2 separate regions of the Homo sapiens genome follow, and region 2 is linked to region 1. Evidence: fine-mapped expression QTL. Tissue or cell type: whole blood. Region 1 holds a variant in brackets; the other region holds the start of a gene. All regions are shown on one strand. Distances are between the middles of the regions.

Evidence for each region. PIP is the estimated chance that this variant, and not a neighbour inherited with it, causes the effect.
Region 2: it holds the start of PRAM1, and the variant in region 1 is fine-mapped to the expression of PRAM1 in whole blood (INTERVAL, PIP above 0.99).

The regions. Positions count from the first base shown.
Region 1 is chr19:8,438,899-8,446,730 of GRCh38, reverse strand. HNRNPM (heterogeneous nuclear ribonucleoprotein M) reads right to left here and starts at 1,756. Exons shown (of 16, transcript NM_005968.5): 1 at 1,620-1,756. The coding sequence starts at 1,732. MARCHF2 (membrane associated ring-CH-type finger 2) reads right to left here. Exons shown (of 5, transcript NM_001005415.2): 5 at 7,714-7,832. RefSeq lists silencers at 1,248-1,477, 1,718-1,997, 4,572-4,866. The variant T/G (reference allele first, on the strand shown) is at 3,684.
Region 2 is chr19:8,499,016-8,505,923 of GRCh38, reverse strand. PRAM1 (PML-RARA regulated adaptor molecule 1) reads left to right here and starts at 3,284. Exons shown (of 10, transcript NM_032152.5): 1 at 3,284-3,359; 2 at 6,144-6,908. The coding sequence starts at 3,333. RefSeq lists enhancers at 1-119, 6,729-6,908 and silencers at 33-132, 153-202.

The DNA.
Region 1 (7,832 bases):
GAACGTTCTTAACCTAAGCGCTCAACTAGGCAGGGCGCAGTAGCTCATGCCTGTAACTTCAGCACTTTGGAAGGCCTAGGCAGGAGGATGGCTTGAACCCAGGAGTTTCAGACCAGCCTGGGCAACACCCGGAGACCTCCTCTCTTCAAAAAATTAGCCGGGCATGGTGGTGCCGCGCCTGTGATCCCAGCTACTCAGGAGGCTGAGATGGAAGGATCGATTGAGCCCAGGAGTTCGAGGCTGCAGTGATCTGTGATCGTGCCACTGCATCCCAGCTTGGGTAACAGAGGGAGACCCTGTCTCAAAGAAAAAAATTAAATATATAAGTGCTCAACCGCATTCACTTTTAATCTCCATAAACTAAGCTTCACACATTACAATATGAGGAAGGCAAAGTCACAGACAGAAAGGAAAGAAAACGGAGGGAGTTAGTATTTAATAGCTACACTTTCTGTTTCCGATGATGAAAAAGTTCTGGACATGAAGCAGTGACGGTTACAGCACACTGAGTCAGTATACTCAATGCCACTGAATTATACGCTTAAAAAATGGTTAAAATGGCAAAGTCTACGTTATGTCTATTTTACCACAATGAAATAAATGTCTGGGAAATTCAATGTGTACCCAGGCTTCCCCTTCCTTCCCGGCCGCTGATCTTGGAGCCAAAACCTCTCTGTCTCTCTTAAGTGTCTGTAATCAGAATGAATGAGTTTCACCGGGGCACAAGTCGATGCTTCCTCCTTTAAAGAAACTTTTAAAAGCCAAGGAGTCAAAGAGCCCCAAGCAGGACTCGAAAAGCTGATGAAGTCTGGAAGTAAATGAACCCGCCTCCTGACAGAACAGCTTCCCCGAAACACGGGAAAAAGGGGATTCCTCCCCCGACTTCGTATCTGTCTGCTTCCGAGGGTGAACGCTAAGCAGCAGATCCCATCTCTCCACTAATACCTGCGGCGCACCCGGGGAGGAGGAGCGGGAAACGGCGAGGGACTTGAGCCAGGGCCAGAGCGTGGGGCGAGGGGCGGTTCCGAGGGAGGCACTTCCCGCGGAGCGCGGTCGGCGCGCGGGGACTAAGGGGCGGGGCAGGAGGGGAGCCCCCCGACCCGGCTTCGCGGCCCTTCCTGACGCTTCCCTCGCTCGGTTACCGTTGACTCGGGCTGACTGCGCGCGAGGCCTCCCGGGCGCGCACCCTCTCTCCTCCCCCCACGTTACGGATCAGAAAACAGACCCCGGGAGGAGAGGGGACGGGGGGCTGAAACCCGGCCCCCGAGGTCACCCTCCCGGGGAGCGGTCGGGTAGGCCTCGGAGGCTCTCCGGTCCGGGCCCGCGCCATCAACCCCCATGCGCAGCAGCTGGGCCTGAGGCCTCGACTACGGGGTTGGCCCCGGCCTGGAGGGACTGAGGGTGGCGAGGCTCGAGGCCCGGTGTAGGGGACGATTCTGGAGGCTCCCCCGGCTCCCCGCTCACGGCCCTAGACGCCGCTACCCTGAGCAGGCGGTACGGGAACAGCCGGGGCCGAGGCCGCGCCGGGGCTAGGCCGCCAACAGACCTAACGGAGCCGCCGCCCGCGTCGGCCGCGGAGAGGAACCCTTACCCGTGGCAAAGGACCGTGGGATACTCACCCCTTAGGGCCCGGAGCCCCGTTGCCGCTCGGCACGCCGGGCGCGCCGCTCTCTTCCTCCATTTTGATCTCCGTCGCCGCCACCTCCGCCGCCGCTTCGACCCCTGCCGCCATTTTCTCCGCGTCTGGGCTTTGTGTGAGCGAACGGGCTGCACCGCGCTGCGCCTGCGCGCCCACGTGACCCGACGCAACCAGTAACACCTGCGCCCGCCGCTCCCGGCTGCCTCCTTGGCCCCACTCGCCCCGGGCCACGCCCCCGCCGCGCGCAGGCGCAGACCGGCAGCTGTTGATCGCTTCTCTCTCGAGATACACTCGCGTTAGGCACCGACTGGCTGTTCCCGGCGCGCGTCCTCTGAGTCCGATAGAGGAGGCATCTCCCCACCCCACCCCACACAAACACCTAGACCTAGTCACTCTCAGCTTTCTGTAACCAGAGCTGGAGCAGAGGGGAAGCAATGATCCTGTCTAGAGATTCCTGGAAGTTTTAGATGAAGCTTGTTCAACCCGCGGTCCGGCACACGATTCGTAAACTTTCTTAAAACATTGTGTCTTTTTGTGTGATTTTTTTCTTTTTGTAACGCAATTGCGCGGTTCTCCAGCGCGAACTTTGTAGGCAACAACGGAACGGCATGGAATAATATCAGAGTATTATCCGTAATTCGCATTATAATTGCAAACAGTTCGTCCAGAAGAAACGGAAAACTGTTAAAATTCACTAATAATGGGGCCAGGCGCGATGGCTCACTCCTGTAATCCCAGCACTTTGGGTATGGGAGGCCGAGGCGGCGGATCACCTGAGGTCAGGAGTTCGAGACCAGACTGGCCAACATGGTGAAACCGCGTCTCTACTAAAAATAAAAAAATTAGCTGGACGTGGTGGCGGGCGCCTGTAATCCCAGCTACTCGGGAGGCTGAAGCAGGAGAATCGCTTGAACCCAGGAGCCGGAGGTTGCAGTGAGCCGAGATCACGCCACTGCACCGCAGCCTGGGAGATAGACTGAGACTCCATCTCAAAAAACAAAAAGATAAGTATTGAGTACTGGGCTTAATACCTGGGTGATGAAATAATCTGTACAACAAACCTCCATGACAAGTGTTTACCTATTTAACAAACCTTCACATTTACCCCCAAACCTAAAAGTTAAAAACAAAATTAAAAAAAAAATTAATGGCTGGGCGCGGCAGCTCACGCCTGTAATCCTACCACTTTGAGAGGCCAAGGCGGGTGGATCACGAGGTCAAGAGATCAGACCATCCTGGCCAACATGATGAAACCCTGTCTCTACTAAAAATACAAAAATTAGCCGGGTGTGGTGGCAGGCGCCCATAATCCCAGCTACTGGGGAGCCTGAGGCAGGAGAATCGCTTCAACCCAGGAGGAGGAGGTTGCAGTGAGCCAAGATCGGGCCACTGCACTCCAGCCTGGTCACAGAGTGAGACCCCATCTCAAAAAAATTAAAAATAATAATAAAGAGCGAGAGGACTCTTGCAATGTTGCATAAAGTGAACTGTGACAGAATTCAGGGTGTATTCTGTACTAGGCATAATGCTGTATGGTCTTATTTTTGTGTGCATTCGTGGCATCAGTTTTATGGTGCTGTGCAGCCTCCAATGTGCCATTTTCCAAGTGCAGACAGTCGAATTGGCACCATCAGATGTTACGTGTGCTTGTGGCAACTTGGGCAGTAAGATGCAGCGATTATCTTTTTGAGACGGAGTTTCGCTCTTGTTGCCCAGACTGGAGTGCAATGGCGCCATCTCGGCTCGCTGCAACCTCCGCCTCCTGGGTTCAAGCGATTCTCCTGTCTCAGCCTCCCGAGTAGCTGGGATTACAGGTGCATGCCACCACGCCCGGCTAACTTTTGTATTTTTAGTAGAGACAAGGTTTCATCATATTGGTCAGGCTGGTCTCGAACTCCTGACCTCGTGATCCGCCTGCCTCAGGCTCCCAAAGTGCTGCGATTGTAGGCGTAAACCACTGCGCCTGGCCTTCAATGCAGCGATTATCAATAATATATTTTTTTCTTTTTTTGGAGACAGTCTTGCTCTGTCACAGAGGCTGGAG[T/G]GCAGTGGCACCATCTCAGCTCACTGCAACCTCCGCCTCCTGATTTCAAGCGATTCTTCTGCATCAGCTTTCCAAGTATCTGGGATTACAGGTGCACACCACGACGCCTGGCTAAGTTTTGTATTTTTTAGTAGAGATGGGGTTTTGCCATGCTGGCCAAACTAGTCTCAAACTCCTGACCTCAGGTGATCTGCCCACCTCAGCCTCCCAAAGTGCTGGGATTACAGGTGTGAGTCACCGTGCCCAGCCTATCAATAATATTTCAATCTACCTTTGTAAATGATAGCTCACTGCAACCTTGAACTCCTGAACTCAAGCGATCCTCCCCTGCTTAGCCTGTCAAGTAGCTGGGACTGTAGGTGCACGCCGCTGCACTTGGCTAATTTTTTATTTTTATTTTTTGGTACAGATAGGGTCTTGCCGTTTTTCCCAGGATGGTCTCGAACTCCTGAGCTCAAGGGATCCTACAGCCTTGGCCTCCCACAGTGCTGGGATTATAAGCGTGAGCCACTGTGCTGGTCCTTAGAGGATTATTAAAGACAGGTTAACACCAAACTAAAACTCTTCTCTATGAAAGTATTAGAATAGATTTGCAAAGAAAACACTTTTCCTTCTCTCTCTCTCTGTTTCTTTCTCTTTTTGTAGAGACAGGGTCTTGCTATGTTGGCCAGGCTGGTCTCTAACTCCCAGCCTTCAAGCAATCCTCCTGCCTTGGCCTCCTAAAGTGCTGGGATTTCAGGCATGAGTCACCCCATCTCGTCTCTCTCTTCCTCATGGCATGTCCTGAGGCATCTGTACATCAACTCCTGGGGCACCACAGGCCAAAGTTGGCCTGAGGAAAGATGGGTGTCAGGCTGTGTAGGGAGTTCAGCTGCAGGAGCAAGGAAGGCCCCCCCAAGGGGCAGGAGAGCTCATGCGCACTGGTGTGATGCTCCGTTTTTGCAGACCACTGGTGCGTCAGTCACCCCATGCCTAGGAGGCCCTGCCCATCTCTCCAGCCACCTGCCCCTCAATCACACTGCTCCAGCCCTGGGGTTCCTCCCTGCTGCTCTTCCTACAGGCTAAGCAGTTTCCAGCCTCTGGGCCTTTGTGCTTAGCTGTTTCCTCCACTCCCATGGCCACACAGGCTTCTCCTTGCCCTTCCAGTCCAGGCAGAAAGTTTTTCTTCCTTTGTGAGTGAGCTACATACCAGGCAGGGATTCATATGGAAAACAGACCTTGAGCAATCAGCTCCTCCACTCTGAGGCTCAGTTTGCTTAACTGAAAATATGGATAATAAGAAATGCAATGCACCAGGCTGGGCACGGTGGCTCACGCCTGTAATCCTAGCAGTTTGAGAGGCCGAGTCAGGTGGATCATTTGAGGTCAGGAGTTCAATACCAGCCTGGCCAATATGGCGAAACCCCATCTGTACTAAAAATACAGAAATTAGCCAGGCATGATGGTTGGCGCCTGTAGTCCCAGCTACTCAGGAGGCTGAGACAGGATAATTGCTTGAACTCGGGAGGTGGAGGTTGCAGTGAGCAGAGATAGTGCCACTGCGCTCTAGCCTGGGCAACAGGGCGAGACTCCGTCGAAAGAAAGAAAGAAAAGAAAGAGAGAGAGAGAGAGAGAGAAAGAAAGAAAGGCACCAGAACTCACCTTTCAGGGTTGCCCTGAGCTTTAAAAGCAGACAGATGCCAAGAGCCTTTAAATATAAAAGAATCGGCAGGCAGAAAGCGCTGAAGAAGTAGGTGTTGTTATTAGATTAACTGCATTCTGGGCCAGGCTCGGTGGCTCACGCCTGTAATCCCAGCACTTTAGGGGGCCGAGGTAGGTGAATCACCTGAGGTCAGGAGTTCGAGACCAGCCTGGTCAACATGACAAGACTTCATCTCTACTAAAAATACAAAACTTAGCTGCCTGTGGTCCCAGCTACTTGGGAGGCTGAGGCAAGAGAGAATCACTTGAACCCGGGAGGCAGAGGTTGCAGTAAGCCAAGATCACCAAGATCACGCCACTGCTCTCCAACCTGGGTGATGGAGTAAGACTCTGTTTCAAAAAAAAAAAAAAAAAAAAAAAAAAACACGTATTCTGCATCTTTCCTGAGTCTTCCTCCAAAAGGAGTCCTGGTGTCACCCCGGCTCCACTTCCTACAGCTCTGAGACCTTAGATTAAGGCTTCCCTGCCCTGGGCCTCAGTCTTCTCACCTGTAAAATGTAGGTAATAACCACTTCTTCCCTAACAAGTGACAGTCAAAGGAGGGAGAGACTCGGAACTATGCCTAATCTATAGTCACCCTAAGTCAGCGTGGATATTGTCACCATTTTTAAAAAATTGTTTGTTTGCTTTAGAGACAGGGTCTTGCCCTGTTGCCTAGAATAGACAACAGAAGTATAATTATAGCTCACTGCAGCCTGGAACTCCTGGATTCAAGGGATCCTCCCACCTCAGCCTCCTGAGTAACTGTGACCACAGGTGCATGCCACCATGCCCAGCTAATATATATATATTTATATATTTATTTATTTAGTAAAGACAGGGTCTCACTATGTTGCCAAGGCTGGTCTCAAACTCCTAGGCTCAACTGATCCTCCTGCCGAAGCCTCCCAAAATGCTGGGATTACAGGCATCAGCCACCAGGCCTGGCCCATGCTGGACTCTCTACACTTAACTAAAAACTAACAGTGGCTAGGCGCAGTGGTGCATGCCTGTTGTCCCAGCTGCCAGGGAGGCTGAGACAGGATTGCCTGAGCCCAGGAGGTCGAGGCTGGAGTGAGCTGTGTGATTGTGCCTCTGCACTCCAATCTGGGTGACAGAGCAAGACCCCATCTCAAAAAAAGAAAAACAGAGGCCAGCATGGTCTGTGGACTGGCAGATGCAAAGTAAGAGGAAATTGTTCTTATGTCTATTTTATTTTTCTATTTTTTATTTTTTGAGACAGAGTTTCACGATGTCACCCAGTCTGAAATGCAGTGGTGCAACTGATCTCAGCTAACTGCAACCTCTGTCTCCCAGGTTCAAGCCATTCTCCTGCCTCAGCCTCCCGAGTAGCTGGGATTACAGGTGTGCGTCTCCACGCCCAGCTAATTTTTGTATTTTTAGTAGAGATGGGGTTTCACCATGTTGGCCAGGCTGGTCTCGAACTCCTGACCTCAGGTGATCCACCCATCTCGGCCTCTCAAAGTGTGATTACAGGCATGAGCCACCATGCCCAGCCCGTATGTATATTTTAAAAATCATTTTTATAACCCTGCTACCTGATTTTTACTTGAAGACTGAGCCTTTGCTTCTTCCCATGGGCTTCAGAACAGATCCCTCAAAACAAGCCAGTGGTTTTTATTGTTTTTTATTTTATTTTATTTTTTTTGAGACAGAGTCTCGCTGTCTCACCCAGGCTAGAGTGCAATGGTGCGATCTTGGCTCACGGCAACCCCTGCCTCCCGGGTTCAAGCGATTCTCCTGCCTCAGCCTCCCGAGTAGCTGGGACTACAGGTATCTGCCACCACGCCTGGCTCATGTTGTATTTTTAGTAGAGACGAGATTTAACCATATTGGCTAGGCTGGTCTCGAACTCCTGACCTTGTGATCCGCCCACCTCAGCCTCCCAAAGTGCTGGAATTCCATGCATGAGCCACTGTGCCTGGCCAACCAGTGTTTTTTGTTGTTGTTTTGTTTTGTTTTGTTTTGGAGATGGAGTCTCTCTCTGTCGCCAGGTTGGAGTGCAGTGACGCCATCTCAGCTCACTGCAACCTCCACCTCCCAGGTGCAAGCGATTCTCCTGCATCAGCTTCCTGTGTAGCACCTGGGATTACCGGCGCGCACCACCATGCCCAAGTAATTTTTATATTTTTAGTAGAGACAGGGTTTCACCATGTTAGCCAGGATGGTCTCGATCTCTTGACCTTGTGATCCACCCACCTCAGCCTCCCAAAGTGCTGGGATTACAGGAGTGAGTCACTACACCTGGCTGGCCGCCAGTGTTATTTTTTTACCTCCATGTGGTCCCTCCCTGGGAGGCCTCCTTTGAGAAACATAACTGACAAGTCCATTTTGTCCAGCCAGGGCTCCTTTTATTCATTCAGGGGTGGGTTTTTGAAACGCAGTGCAACTTTTATATAAAGTCGAGGGTGCCAGGAAAGTGGGCCTGCCGGGTGCAGAGAAGCGCAA
Region 2 (6,908 bases), 60 kb before region 1:
CGCGCGGAACCCTGCCGGGAGCCCCTACGGAGGCGCCAAATACACAAAGGGTAGTTGGCGGGGAGGCGCACCATGACTACAGCTCCGGGACCTGCGCTTCACCCCCACGGCGCCCCCGTGGGGCCTTGGTGCGCGCGCCCTGGCTGGACCCTCCTAGCTGCGAGAGTGCACGGGTAGTGACCAGCCCAGGCACCTGGGAATCCATCAGCTGTCATCCAATCCTTTAATTACCTTGATTGAGCTCCTTACTGTGGCCAAGCATTGCTTGATTTATTTATTTACTTATTTTTATTATTTAATTTAATTTTTTTTTTTTTGAGACGGTGTCTCGCCTTGTCACCCAGGTTGGAGTGCAATGGCGCAATCTCAGCTCACTGCAACCTCCGCCTCCCGGGTTCAAGCGATTCTCCCGCCTCAGCCTCCCAGGTACCTGGGATTACAGGTGTGCACAAACAGTATTTTTAGTAGAGACAGGGTTTCATCATGTTGGCCAGGCTGCTCTCGAACTCCTGACCTCAGGTGATACGCCCGCCTGGCCTCCCAAACTTCTGGGATTACAGGCGTCAGCCACCGCGCCTGGCCACTTGTTCTTTCTTTCATTCTTTCCTTCACTTGCCAAGGTTCTGGAGACCCACAGAGAGCCCATACTGTCCTCCCGAGACTCCTTTTTGGGAGGGCAACCCACATCTGGGAACTGTGCCCCAGGACAGGATGCAAAGGCACAACAGAGATGGCAGAATCCTGATGTCTGTGCTCTTAAAGGAGGCGTGAAAACAGGCAGGCCAGGCGCAGTGACTAAGGCCTGTAATCCCAGCACTTTGGGAGGCCCACGTGGGTAGATTGCTTGAGGTCAGGAGTTTGAGACCAGCCTGGCCAATGGTGACACCCCAGCTCTGCTAAAAATCCAGAAAATTAGCCGGGCATGTTGGCAGGCACCTGTAATCCCAGCTACTTGAAGCCGGGAGGCAGCCTGGGAGACAGAGCAAGACTTTGTCTCAAAAAAAAAATTTTAAAATGTTTTAAAAATACTTGCTCGGGCCACACCCCAGACTGATTAAGTCAGAGTTTCTTGTAGGTTCTGTTTTTTGTTTTGTTTTTTTTTAGATGGAGTTTTGCTCTGTCACCCAGACTGGAGTGCAGTGGAGCCATCTCGTCTCACTGCAACCTCCGCCTCCTGGGTTCAAGCAATTCTCCTGCCTCAGCCTCCCAAGTAGCCAAGATTACAGGCATGCGCCACCACGCCGAGCTAATTTTTGTATTTTTAGTAGAGATGGGGTTTCTCCATGTTGCCCAGGCTGGTCTTGAACTCCCAACCTCAGGTGATCAACCTCAGGTGATCCACCCGACTCAGCCTCCCAAAGTGCTGGGATTACAGGCGTGAGCCACACTGCCCAACCGCCGGTTCTTTTTTTTTTTTTTTTAACTGTTCAGGCAATTCCAACATGTGCTCAAACTGAAAACCAGGGCTCTCTACTCTCTTAGCAGGTGTTTTCTCCCTTTGTCTACCGTGACGGAGATTACTGATCTCCTGTGGGCTGAGCTCTGTGGTCAGGGCTTGTCCTTATCTGGCCAGTCCTCGGCACCACAAGTGACTGCCTTCACCCCCTCTTGGCCCCTGTCTCTGTCTCCTGGTTCCTCTTCTCTCTACTACCTCTAACCTCTGGGAATCTGGTGTGTCCTCGGGTCCTCAGACCCCCTCACTCCTCCAGAACTGCAAAGCCTTTTTTTTTTTTTTTTTTTGAGATGGAGTCTCTCTCTGTCACCCAGCATGGAGTACAGTGGCGTGATCTTGACTCTGCAACCTCCGCCTTCAGGGTTCAAGTGATTCTCCCACCCCAGCCTCCCAAGCAGCTGGGACCACAGGCGTGCACCATCACACCTGGCTAATTTTATATTTTTTGTAGAGATGGAGTCTTGCTACATTGCCCAAGCTGGTCTTGAACTCCTGGGCTCAAGTGATCCTCCTGCCTCAGCCTCCCAAAGTGTTAGGATTACAGGCGTGAGCCACCGTGCGTGGCCCAGGTGCAAGGCCTTTGACACCACTCACCCACCGACCCCCAAATCTGCTGTACCAGCTAAGCTTTCTGCCCAGGGCGGCAGCCTGGGACATCCATGGCCTGTGATATCTGCCCCAGAACAAGTGAGTCCTGCTCAGAGCCGGGAATTGGATTTCATGGAAGTGTTGAAATGAGGAAGGCGGATGAGCCAACCAGGGCAGACAGCAGAGGCCTCACCCGGTCACATGGGCCCCCACGTCCTGGGCCTCTGGGCCTCCCCAGGAGCCTCCTAAACCCCAGAGCTGTCCGTACCCCTGATCTGCTGAGATCTCCCCATCCTGTGGCTCTCTAGCCCAGGAGGTCACCAGGGCCTGGCATGGAGTCCTCCCTGGAGTCCAGAGATGGGGACACCAAAGTAGTAGGAATGATGGGGACTATAGAGAGTAAGAAACTAGTTGGCCAGGCGTGGTTGCTCACGCCTGTAGTCCCAGCACTTTGGGAGGCCGAGGCGGGCAGATCATCTGAGGTTGGGAGTTTGAGACCAGCCTGACCAACATGGTGAAACCCCGTCTCTACTAAAAATACAAAAAATTAGCCGGCAGTGGTGGCACATGCATGTAATTCCAGCTACTCAGGAGACTGAGGCAGGACAATCGCTTGAACCTGGGAGGCGGAGGTTGCAGTGAGTCGAGATTGCGCCACTACACTCCAGCCTGGGCAACAAAGTGATACCCCGTCTCAAAAAAAAAAAAAAAAAAAAAAAAAAGAAAGAAACTAGTGACCATGTTAGGAACATGCGGGCAACCAGTGCCCCAAGCTTGGGACAGTAGCAGGCAGGACAGGAATTCAAGCGAAATAGAAGTGCCCAGCAGGGGCCGGGGCAGTGGCTCACACCTGTAATCCCAGCACTTTGGTAGGCCGAGGCGGACCGATCCCTTGAGGTCAGGAGTTTGAGACCAGCCTGCCCAACATGGTGAAACCCCTTCTCTACTAAAGATACGAAAAGTAGCCAGGAGCGGTGGTGCGCGCCTGTAATCCCAGCTACTCAGGAGGTTGATGCAAAAGAATTGCCTGAACCCGGGAGGCAGAGGTTGCAGTGAGCCGAGATGGCACCATGGCACTCCAGCCTGGGCGACAGAGCAAGACTCAGTCTCAAAAAAAAAGAAGTGGCTGGCAGGATCTGGAGACGGACTGGAGCCTCCCCACCTCCTTCCCTTCCTCCTCTGCCCTCCCCCGCCCCACCTCTAGCAGCCCCCACCCTGTGTGCTGACCGTGGAGCAGAAGCCACAGTCACTTCCTGAAGGCAGCGGCCCCAGCTCGGGTCCCACTCATCCCATGGCCCATCACCTGCCTGCAGCCATGGTGAGTGCTGGAAGAGGCCTGTGCCTCACTGGCTGGGAAGCAAGGGACACAGATGTTCCCAGAAGGATAGGATCCACCTGTGGAGGGGCGGGCGGGGGGGCGGGGGGTGGCTGCGAAAGACATCTGGGAAACGGGAAGGGTCGGCAAAAAGGACCCGAGGTAGGCGGCCACCAGGCACACCCCAGGACAGCGCGGGCTCCTGGGGGTTCACGCTCAGGTTGGGACTGCGAGGGGGACAGATGGGACTCCCCGGGGGGACAACTCCCGTCTCCCCAGGTCAACATGAGCAGCCATGTGGGAACGGGCTGCTGGGGTGAGAGCAGTGCTTTCCTGCGGGGTGACAAAGTGGGTCATGACCCTCCCCCGTCCAGTCACCCAAGTTGTGACCTGCTAACCCTGACTTATCTAGCCCTGTGGTCGCCCGGGAGCACTTCCTTCAAACCACTCGGGGCTTTGACAGGGGCACTTCAGGCCCCAGGTGGGAATTGCTGCCTTTCCAAGGAGCAATCCTGGTCTCTGGTCCTCTGGATGGGGAAAGTGAGGCACACGCAGGAAGCAAAGGCCACACGTTTCTGCCCTTTCCCTCCCCCAATCTCCTTGACCACAGGTGAAAGGGGCGTTTGTAGGACTAAGGAGGCCTGGCCTTCTTGTGAATCTGCCTACCTCTGTGAGGAGTGGTTGCAGGGCCAGCTAGGAGGGCAGCTGGGACAGCTGGGTATGCAGGAGACAGCGCCTGTGCCCACGGTGTCTGCACCAATCCTCTCAGGCACTGTCAACTGTGAGCATTCCTGACCATCAGCCCGCATGTCAGAGACGGTGTGAGAGGGACCGCATGGCCGTCTCCAGGCATCTCTGTGTTTTCCTGATGGTCAGGCTGAGTACATGGCTGTCTTTGTGCTGCCTGAATATTGTTTATTTCAGCAAATATTTACTGAGCACCTACCATGTTCCAGGCCCTGGGAAGACAGCAATGAATGAGCCAAGTCTCTGCCTTGCAGAGGCTGAGGAACTGAGGGAAGTTGTGGTGTAGAGAGACAAAAAAAAAAAAAAAAAAAAATCAAGACACATTAAAAACAATGTAAAATAGTATAATACGTAGGGGTGGGTACGATGGAGAAAATCATGCATGCTGAATGCAGGGCAGTAGTGGGATGGGGTGATCCATTTAAAATAGGGTGGTCTAGGCCAGGCGTGATGGCTCATGCACTTTGGGAGGCCGAGGTGGGTGGATCACTTGAGGTCAGGAGTTCGAGACCAGCCTGGCCAACATGGTAAAACCCTGTTTCCATTAAAAATACAAAAAAAATTAGCCAGGCGTCGTGGCAGACACCTGTGATCCCAGCTACTCAGGAGGCTGAGAATCGCTTGAACCCAGGAGGCGGAGGTTGCAGTATGGCGAGATTCCACCACTGCATTCCAACCTGGGTGACAGAGTGAGACTCCGTCTCAAAAAAAAAAAAAAAAAAGAAAGAAAGAAAAATAGGGTGGTCTAGGTTGGGCACGGTGGCTCACACCTGTAATCCCAGCACTTTGGGAGGCTGAGGCGGGTGGAGGGTGGATCACCTGAGGTCGTGAGTTTGAGACCAGCCTGGCCAACGTGGTGAAACCCTGTCTCTAGTTAAAATACAAAAATTAGCCAGGTGTGGTGGCGAGTGCCTGTAATCCCAGCTACTTGGGCGGCTGAGGCACGAGAATCATTTGAACCTGGGAAGTGGAGATTGCAGTGAGCCGAGATCGCGCCATTGCACTCCAGTCTGGGTGACAGAGCAAGACTCCATCTCAAAAAATAAAAATAAACAAATAGGGTGGCCTTGGATGGCCTCTCTAATAAGAAAATATGAGAACAGAGGCTGGGAGGAGGAAAAGGAGAGACCCAGGTGGTGCAGAGACATGTCCTGGGTCAGGGACAGGGCAGAGGCCCCGAGGTCGGAGGGAAGTGTTCAGGGTGCAGGGAGGAGAAGGTGGCTGGGTAGGGAGGCTGGTTCGCCCAGGCTTTTATGAGGCATTTAGCTTGAACTGTGGGGACATGAGGAAGCATTGCCGAGTTTTGAGCAGAGGGACACAAACAGACTCAGGGTTCAACAGGCTTCTCCCTCCAGCTGCCATGGGGGGAACTGACCAGGGAAGGGGGTAGGCAGAGGCCCAGGGAAGGGCTTGTTAGAGTAATCCAGGCAATTGGTTGGGGGAGGGCAGACACTGCCTCCCACTACCTCCTGGGGTGACAGTGGTGAAGGCAGTGAGAAGTGGTTGGATTCCGGATGTGTTTTGAAATTAGCACAGAAGGGACTGGGGGCCTGGGCGCGGCGGCTCAAGCCTGTAATCCCAGCTACTGGGGAGGCCGAGGTCGGGGGAATCATTGGAGCCCAGGAGTTGCAAGCTGCAGTGAGCTATGATTGCACCACTGCTCTCCAGCCTGGGCAATGGAACGAGACTGGAGACATGCAGTGGGAGGGGTGAAAGAATGAGGGGGTCAAGGATGCTGGGGGGGTGGGGTACCACCCATGGGGGGAGGGCAGTGGGACTGGAGGCTGCAGGAGGGATGTCGGGATCTCCAGTGCTGCTAGAGGAGGTTGGGTGTGGAATCAGCACTAAATGGAGAAGTAGGGAGGGGTGTCGGTCCCAGGATCCTAGGATCCATGGGGGCTCCTGGGAAAGAGCTGAGGGCTGACCGGGCCTGGGCGCAGGGGTGGTGGTTGTGGGCTGTGCCTGAGGGTCCCCAGGCCCATCCTTCCATGCCCCTTCTGTGTGTTTGAGCCCCTGCCTCATTGGCTCTGCGTCTCCTAGGAGAGCCATCAGGACTTCCGGAGCATCAAAGCAAAGTTCCAGGCCTCTCAGCCGGAGCCCAGCGACCTGCCCAAAAAACCTCCGAAGCCTGAGTTTGGTAAACTGAAGAAGTTCTCCCAGCCTGAGCTAAGCGAGCACCCCAAGAAGGCCCCGCTGCCTGAGTTTGGTGCAGTGTCCTTGAAGCCCCCGCCGCCTGAGGTCACTGACCTCCCCAAGAAGCCCCCGCCGCCTGAGGTCACTGACCTCCCCAAGAAGCCCCCGCCGCCTGAGGTCACTGACCTCCCCAAGAAGCCCCCGCCGCCTGAGGTCACTGACCTCCCCAAGAAGCCGTCCAAACTGGAGTTGAGTGACCTCTCCAAGAAGTTCCCACAGCTGGGGGCCACTCCGTTTCCAAGGAAGCCCCTGCAGCCTGAGGTCGGTGAGGCCCCTTTGAAGGCCTCGCTGCCGGAGCCTGGTGCGCCGGCCCGGAAACCCCTGCAGCCCGACGAACTCAGTCACCCCGCCAGACCCCCCTCCGAACCCAAATCCGGCGCATTCCCCAGGAAGCTCTGGCAACCCGAGGCCGGTGAGGCTACCCCGAGGTCCCCGCAGCCTGAGTTGAGTACCTTTCCCAAGAAGCCTGCGCAGCCTGAGTTCAACGTGTACCCCAAAAAGCCTCCGCAGCCTCAGGTCGGTGGCCTCCCTAAGAAGTCCGTGCCGCAGCCTGAGTTCAGCGAGGCCGCTCAGACTCCCCTCTGGAAGCCTCAGTCCAGCGAGCCGAAGCGC